Linked DNA regions of Homo sapiens. The protein of the gene in region 2 purifies or fractionates together with the protein of the main gene of each other region. This does not show direct contact. Each region holds a gene or a part of one and is shown on either strand. Other genes may lie near its edges.

The links.
Region 1: the proteins of LRRIQ3 (region 2) and GNB4 purify together in Homo sapiens (affinity purification with mass spectrometry, with the first as the bait; one large-scale study listed by BioGRID). This does not show direct contact.

Annotation. Positions count from the first base shown.
Region 1 is NC_000003.12:179,416,651-179,420,484, forward strand, and holds part of GNB4 (guanine nucleotide-binding protein subunit beta-4), read right to left. Parts: intron 2,856-3,834; coding exon 2,749-2,855; intron 1-2,748. UniProt on the Homo sapiens protein: Guanine nucleotide-binding proteins (G proteins) are involved as a modulator or transducer in various transmembrane signaling systems.
Region 2 is NC_000001.11:74,181,071-74,184,904, reverse strand, and holds part of LRRIQ3 (leucine-rich repeat and IQ domain-containing protein 3), read left to right. Parts: intron 1-1,220; coding exon 1,221-1,469; intron 1,470-2,043; coding exon 2,044-2,367; intron 2,368-3,834.

The DNA.
Region 1 (3,834 bases), on a different chromosome or scaffold from region 2:
ATACAATTTTTCCAACTAAAAACTTGATACCAAAAAATGTTCTTCCAACTTTTAAAAAATTTATGCTGCATGCCAAAAATCTTGAACATATTTCATAAAATAAAATTTAGCAACTGACTAAAAATGTCTGGCTATGATTAAACATTTTTGTGGTAACAACATCTTAGTTATACAAGATTTGGGTGGATATTAGCTGACTGGTTTAGTACTTACTGACTTACTTAAATTTCATGACAAGAATGTACATAGAAGCCTAACAACCATATTTCATCCAATCTAAAAACACCAATTGAGAGCCTGAGAATATGACAATACTAGAGGTACAACGCAGGATACATCGCCTGCTCTTGAGGCCTCTACCATCTGGTGAAGATAAGACATTTACTCATATTTATATTAAATCAAGTAAGTAAAAACTGTCAGAAGAGGGGTATAAAATAAATGCCACAGGAGAGTAAAGGAGGAACAATGGCTAGATGAGTTAATCACAAGAGAATGAGTCTTGAAAGAAAATGTTGAGAGCTAAAGATACAGAAAAGGCTGTATTTTAGGAGAAAGCTATGTAAGATCAATGACAGGTAGAAAAATACACTGAGTGTTGTTTCAGGAATTGTGGGTCTTCCAGTAGTACAGTTTGTGAGAAAATGGAAAAATAAGTTGAGAAAAGCAGACTGGGCTTAAACTGCAGAAAGCTTTGTTAAACTAAAGAGTATGAACTCCTAAGTAATTTTAGCCACTAAATTTTTTGTTTTGTTTGGATTTTTTTTTTTTTTTTGAGACAGACACTCACTGTGACACCCAGGTTAGAGTGCAATGGCACGATCTCAGCCCACTGCAACCTCCGCCTCTCAGGTTCAAGTGATTCTCCTGCCTCAGCCTCCCGAATAGCTGGCATAACAGGTGTGCACCACCACGACTGGTAAGATGGGATCTCAACATGTTGGTCAGGCTGGTCTTGAACTCTTGACCTCAAGTGATCCACTCGCTTGGCCTCCCAAAGTTCTGGGATTACAGGCATGAGCCACCATGCCCAGCCTTGTTTGGAATTTTTACTTTTCACCATGGTGTAAAATTCAAAAAATAAAAAAGGATATACAGAAGAAAATTTAAAAAGCACCTTCCTGGGCCTATCATCAGCCACCCAGTTCCTTTCCCTAGAGGTAAATAACATTATCAGATTCTTGGGTAGCAATCACTACAAGGTTTTACAAAAGGGAAGATCTATCTGATAGTGGGGTATAGGATGGCATCTAAAGAAAATTCTTTAGAAATCAATTGGCATCATCAGCATAAGAGTTGAGGAGAACATTAAGTAATGGATTGATAACACGGATGGGTGGGAAGACTATGTGAGATAGGTTCCTGGATGATGGTTTCATTTTTCTATGAAGATTAACAGTCTTCAGAAAACGTTTAAGGAAAGCAAGAACCATAAACATTGTTTCAAGTTACTATATTTTAAGTTAAAATTTTGCTTTATCAACAGGTAAATTATTTTTATCTTCAACTCCTTTAAGAAAAAGAATAAGACATTCGGCCAGGCGCGGTGGCTCACACCTGATTAATCCCAGCACTTTGGGAGGCTGAGGCGGTTGGATCACCTGAGGTCAGGAGTTCAAGACCAGGCTGGCTAACATGGTGAAACCCCCTCTCTACTAAAAATACAAAAATTAGTCAGGCGTGGTTGTGGATGTCTGTAATCCCAGCTACTTGGGAGGCTGAAGCAGGAAAATCCCTTGAACCTGGGAGGCAGAGGTTGCAGTGAGCCGATACCACACCATTGTACTCCAGCCTGGGCAACAAGAGTGAAACTCTGTCTCAAAAAAAAAAAAAAAAAAGAAAAAAGAAAAGAAAAAGAAAAAGATTAAGACATTATGTCAGTTGCCAATTATATAATTTTATGTATCCCTTCGTAAGAGGCACATGTTCTATATTATTGTGGTCAAGTATCCCAATTAGAGCAACAATTGAGGCTTCTTCTACTTTATAATTTTAGTGTCTCCTGGGAGAAGAGAATAAATGTGCAACTTCTATTAAAACATAGAAGTTTCTTGGTTTAGGCATTTCCCATTAAGATTAACCAAATCAAAGGAACAAGTAAACCACTGTGATAGCAGACACATCTGCTATTGCCAGACAATGGAAAAACATAGGCTGTGCTGTAGCCTTATACACATAGTGAATGACAGTGATGAGCAATCTATCTAACTGTAGGCCACGTAGCAGCTGTGCGTGTGCCTGTGCACCTGCAGATGGTCAGCTTGCACATTCAAGCACACACCTTTCTGTGATGCAGTCGAGGGAGTAAAAGATGTATTCAGTACAAACACCTTTGTTTCATGTAATTTCCATTATTTGCGAATTTATGTAATAACAAACTATAGCAATATCCAAAAACTTGCACATAGGTGTTCAATACGTATTTGCTTATGAACTGAAATTTCAAGCTTCATATACAGTAAAAACGCTTTGTGCCTATTTAAAAAACAAAGAATGTCTGCAATGTTCCACTGCAAAGAAAAGGAATCCTCTTCTGAACAGTTGTCCTGGATTCCATATTAAAAATGTTTATACTTTTAAAGAGTCAATTAATATTCTTATTGAAAGCAGCATGTTCATCTGAGATGCATTTTCTGCAAACGCTTCATGAATATATTCTGTTTTTAAACAAAGAAAATGCAAATGATGGTTCTTAATGAAAATAATTCTGCAACAGTTTAAAAATGACAGGTAATGACAGGTACAAACCTGGAATCGTATCCCCAATGCATAGCATAGATTTTAGCTAGGTGGCCCCTCAGTGTACGTCTTGTTCGCATTTGTATTCGACCCACAGAGTCCATATTTGATGTAATCTTTTGAAAGCAACAAAAATGTTATTCTTTACCTTAATCATAGTTCATGAGATAACTTGAACTAGAAACAGTGAGGAGTTAAAAAAGCAAACATAAAGTACATTTATAGTAACTGAAGGTAATTTAATGTATATAATTCCACAGAGCCGTTATGGGATCAATATGTTCCTGAAAATTATGATTAGTTTAAAATAATCCTATGTGCTGTTATAAATAATATACATAAATGTATAATAAGAATGCCTTCTGCAGACTATTAACTAAAAAGAATAGATATACCTCTATGCTTTAGTAAAAAACCAGCCACAAATAAAAATCTAGAGGCAAATGATCACAGTAAACATTTACAATTTTAACTGTAAGAAAGCCAATTTTATATTTGTAGAGCACATAAAATACTTCCTTAATAATAATGATCAATATTAATTAAACATGAAGCCTTCCCAAGATTTTTTAAAAATATTAGTCTTCTTGACCCCTCTTACTATCTCATTCCCAACCTAAGAGTTTTCATAAGGAAAAAAACACTTAATCAGGGTATACCAAAAAGAATCAGAAACTATTTAAAAAGAAGCATAAACTATATGAATCTATACATACATATATATATACATACATAAATATATATAATTTTTTTTTTTTCGAGACAGAGTCTCACTTTGTCTCCTGGGCTGGAATGCAGTAGGGATCTCGGCTCATTGCAATATCTGCCTCCCAGGTTCAAGCGATTATCCTGCCTCAGCCTACCAAGTAGCTGGGATTACAGGCAGGCACCACCATGACCAGCTAACTTTCATGTTTTTTTTTTTTTTCTAGTAGAGACAGGGTTTCACCATGTTGGCCAGGCTGGCCTCAAACTCTTGACCTCAAGTGATCCTCCCACCTCGGCCTCCCAAAGTACTGGGATTACAGACATGAGCCACCATGCTTGGCCTTGAAAATATATATACATATATATATATATATTTTTTTTTGAGAC
Region 2 (3,834 bases):
GGAAGTCCAAATGATGTGTATATTATCCTACATCCCAGCACCAATAGAGCTTCATGAGTTTAATTTGTAAAGGTTTATTTATATCTGTGTATTCCATATCTGACTCTATATTTTTAAGACTGGTTTACTTGTAGTTGAGGCTAATCTTTCATAAGGTGTTCGTCGATCACCTGTTAACATTATTCCTATGCCCTTAGCCCAGAAATTCTGATACAGTAGATATGAGATGGGGCCCATGAATCTGCCTTCTAATTAATTCATTGACACTTAGAGCTGGAGGATTCTAGTTTTAGGCCTTGGTTGTGATATATAAAGTAACCAGTGTCTTGAAAGAGTACAAGAGTGTATCTGGATTTTCACATTTATTCTCATTTGAATCACACTGATTTAGTTTATCTGCACATCGTAGAAATCGATTCTTCCATTGGGGAATGTTGATCTTAAAACATACTTCCAAATAGACCACTTCAGCTCATACATTCTCTTCTCACCTATCACTGACTACCTTTTATGAAAGCTGAAATTACTCTTAATAAGTGAAAATTCACATATATGAGAAATACTGTGTAAAATTATATTAAAAACCATTTATCCAAATATTTTAGATAAATTTAAGTAGTCAAAATTTAAAGCTATTAGAATTCTGAGCCTAATTTCCTAATTGAATTGAATGTAAATATTTTGACAACAAATTTTCTCTGTAAGACACAAATATTGTTGATAACATTTGAAGGCCTGTATAGCACCTTTATTTTATCTGGCTGCATTGTTTAGCCTCTTTAACAAAGATTATCACTCTCCTGACTTGTTTATTATTCAGTGTATTTCTTTAACAGTATATTTTAACAAAAATTATCATACGAGTTATATAAAGTATGGTTTCATTTGTTTGTTGTTAGTTGTCTTGTCTAGAAGGGATGATTTTATCTCAGTTTCTTCACTGAATTTTTCAAATATTCTATGAAAATGGAAGTTTGTCTTCCTCTTGCTAATTAGTTCGTTCACTGGTGAGGGCAGTGATAACATTCTGATTGGCTGTTATTGAAATGTTAGATATTTAAGTTATTTTGGGATAGAAAGTTCTATAAGAATGAGTTTTTTTAAATTTTAACTTTAATAACACTTTTTACTTGCGCTATCTCTTGGCAAAATTTTGTTTGTTTTCAGGTAAATTTTTGAAAGTGGAAAAAAAAATCAAAGCACTTTCTTATCTTTCCTAGATGTTTCATGGAACAGTCACAGAAGAGCTAACCAGTCATGAAGAATGGAGTCACTATAATGAAAACATAAGAGAAGGTCAAAAAGATTTTGTTTTTGTGAAGTTCAATGGCCTTCATTTAAAGTCTATGGAAAATTTGCAGTCTTGCATCTCTCTTAGAGTATGCATCTTCTCAAACAATTTTATTACAGATATTCATCCACTTCAAAGTTGTATAAAATTAATCAAACTTGATCTCCATGGAAATCAGGTAAGCAATAGCCATTTCAGATATTTGCATATAAACGAAATTTCAGTCTTATAATAAGTACTTATGTTACCTATCCACAGTATTTCTTCAACATGGTCTTTTGTCTAAAATATAAACAAAAATTTAACAATAAATTAAAAGCATGTAAGATGTATATAAATACGGACACTTTGATGTAAATGAAAATACATAAATAGTGTGTAATCTGGTATGTTTCACTTCTTAAATCTATAGCCTGGATTAAGAATGCCTCATGATTCCTTAATTTTCCTTAGGTAAGGAAAGTATTTTAGAAAAGTTTAAAGAGTCAACCTATTACAAAGAAATTTTCTTTGAACAAAAAAGTATGGTTATGCATTTTACTATGCGAATAATAATAAATTATCTCAGATACCCAGTGTATTATGGTTTTCAACTGGCCATCATTGGATAATTATAAATACTCTGTTTGCTTATTAATTAGAAACTTGCTATTTGGGGAATATTGAATTTTATATGTGTAATATTTTACCATTTTCTGTGCTATTCGAAAAAAGTAATTTTGGAATTTAAAAGATTTTTAATAATATTTCAGATAAAGAGTCTACCAAATACCAAATTTTGGAATGGATTGAAGAACCTAAAACTACTCTATCTTCATGACAATGGGTTTGCAAAGTTAAAGAATATATGTGTATTATCTGCCTGTCCAACCCTCATTGCCCTCACTATGTTTGATTGTCCAGTAAGCCTTAAAAAAGGATATAGACATGTTCTTGTTAACAGTATATGGCCTCTCAAAGCGCTGGATCATCATGTGATTTCTGATGAAGAAATAATTCAGAACTGGCATCTTCCTGAAAGATTCAAAGCATGTAACCATCGACTTTTCTTTAATTTCTGCCCAGCTTTGAGAAAGGTAATTGGCTTCTTTAGGGTTTCATTTTAATTAAATGTATAAAAGGGAAATTTTAGCTTCTGAGTTCTATATCTAAATTATATAAACTTTTTAATATTTTTGCATCATTTATATAAAATAATATAAACCAATGAATATATTTGTAATGTCTTTCTATCTGAAACTTGATAAAAGTTTGCATGCCAACTACATTAAACAAAGCCTGAAATGATCAAATTGTAGAGAAACAAATTTTTGTTTTTTAAATTGAAAGTAAATCTCTAATTTATTCAGAATTTGGTATATGAAAGACTCCATTGAGAAATACTTAATGTTTTTTAAGAGCGTTAAAGGATGACTTAGATTATTATTAGAAGATAAAATATTTAATTCTTACACAATTGATTTGGTTATTTGACAAGATAAAACCATCATTATCTATTGATTTATAAAATGTTAGAAGAAGTGATTGTGAAAAGTTGATACCAAGTTAACGGATACAGACTAATTAAGTGGATTTACAAAAACATAAGGAAACGTTCTTTATAACACATGAATAAATATTAGAACAAATCATTTAAGAGTTCAAAAGAGGGGGTTAAATTAGGTACAAGATATAGTAACAATAAGTTGCAGGAAATGTTTGTAATATGTTCTAAAGATATGTGAAGTCACATATATGTGTGTAGAAATTTTGAGGAAGAATAGAACATAATTTTGAACAGTGAGTATATCTAAAAGAATATATAAACATTGAACAGTGATTATGCGTGGAAAAACTGAAAATTACAAAGTTGGAAGAATTTTATTACTGCATATAATTTTTTTAATTAGGGACATATTAGTGATTTTGTAATAGTTTTAAAAATTTAGGATTTTGGTAATAATTTTGTACTAATAGTTAAAAATATAAAAAACAAGGTAGTATTTAAGTCTGATATCTTAACCTGGGCCCTAAATAAAGAATTTCACTTAGGTACTTCAGTTGCGTAGTATGGCATAATGAAAGGTGGCAACAGGCATGACCCTTTTAAGGATAATCGAAGTGACAGATTCATTTAAGGAAGTAATGGAAAGTTGGGCAGTGGGCATTGAGAAAGAACTTGGATGACCTACTAAAGAGCTTAGACTTGATGAATATAATGAAGATTAATTGAAATTATTTGAGTAGGAAAATTAGGGTAGGTCCCTCATAGTAAGTGCTCTATGAATAAATGGTATTGACAAGGTTTTTAAAAGGTGATCAACCCAACATTTTGCTAGCAGATTAATGGAGGATAGAAGCCAAATGAGGGCAAGGGGATCAATTACTGTAGGTTCAAAATGATGTGATTAGGATTGATATAGGCAGATACCAGTAATAAAGAAGAAAGAACACAGTGTAGAGGACAGACACATATTCAGTGAATGCCATTGTGGTAGGCGCTTTATACATTTTATTTCTTCATTCTTTCACCAAGTATATACTGAGTACCTAATATATGAAAA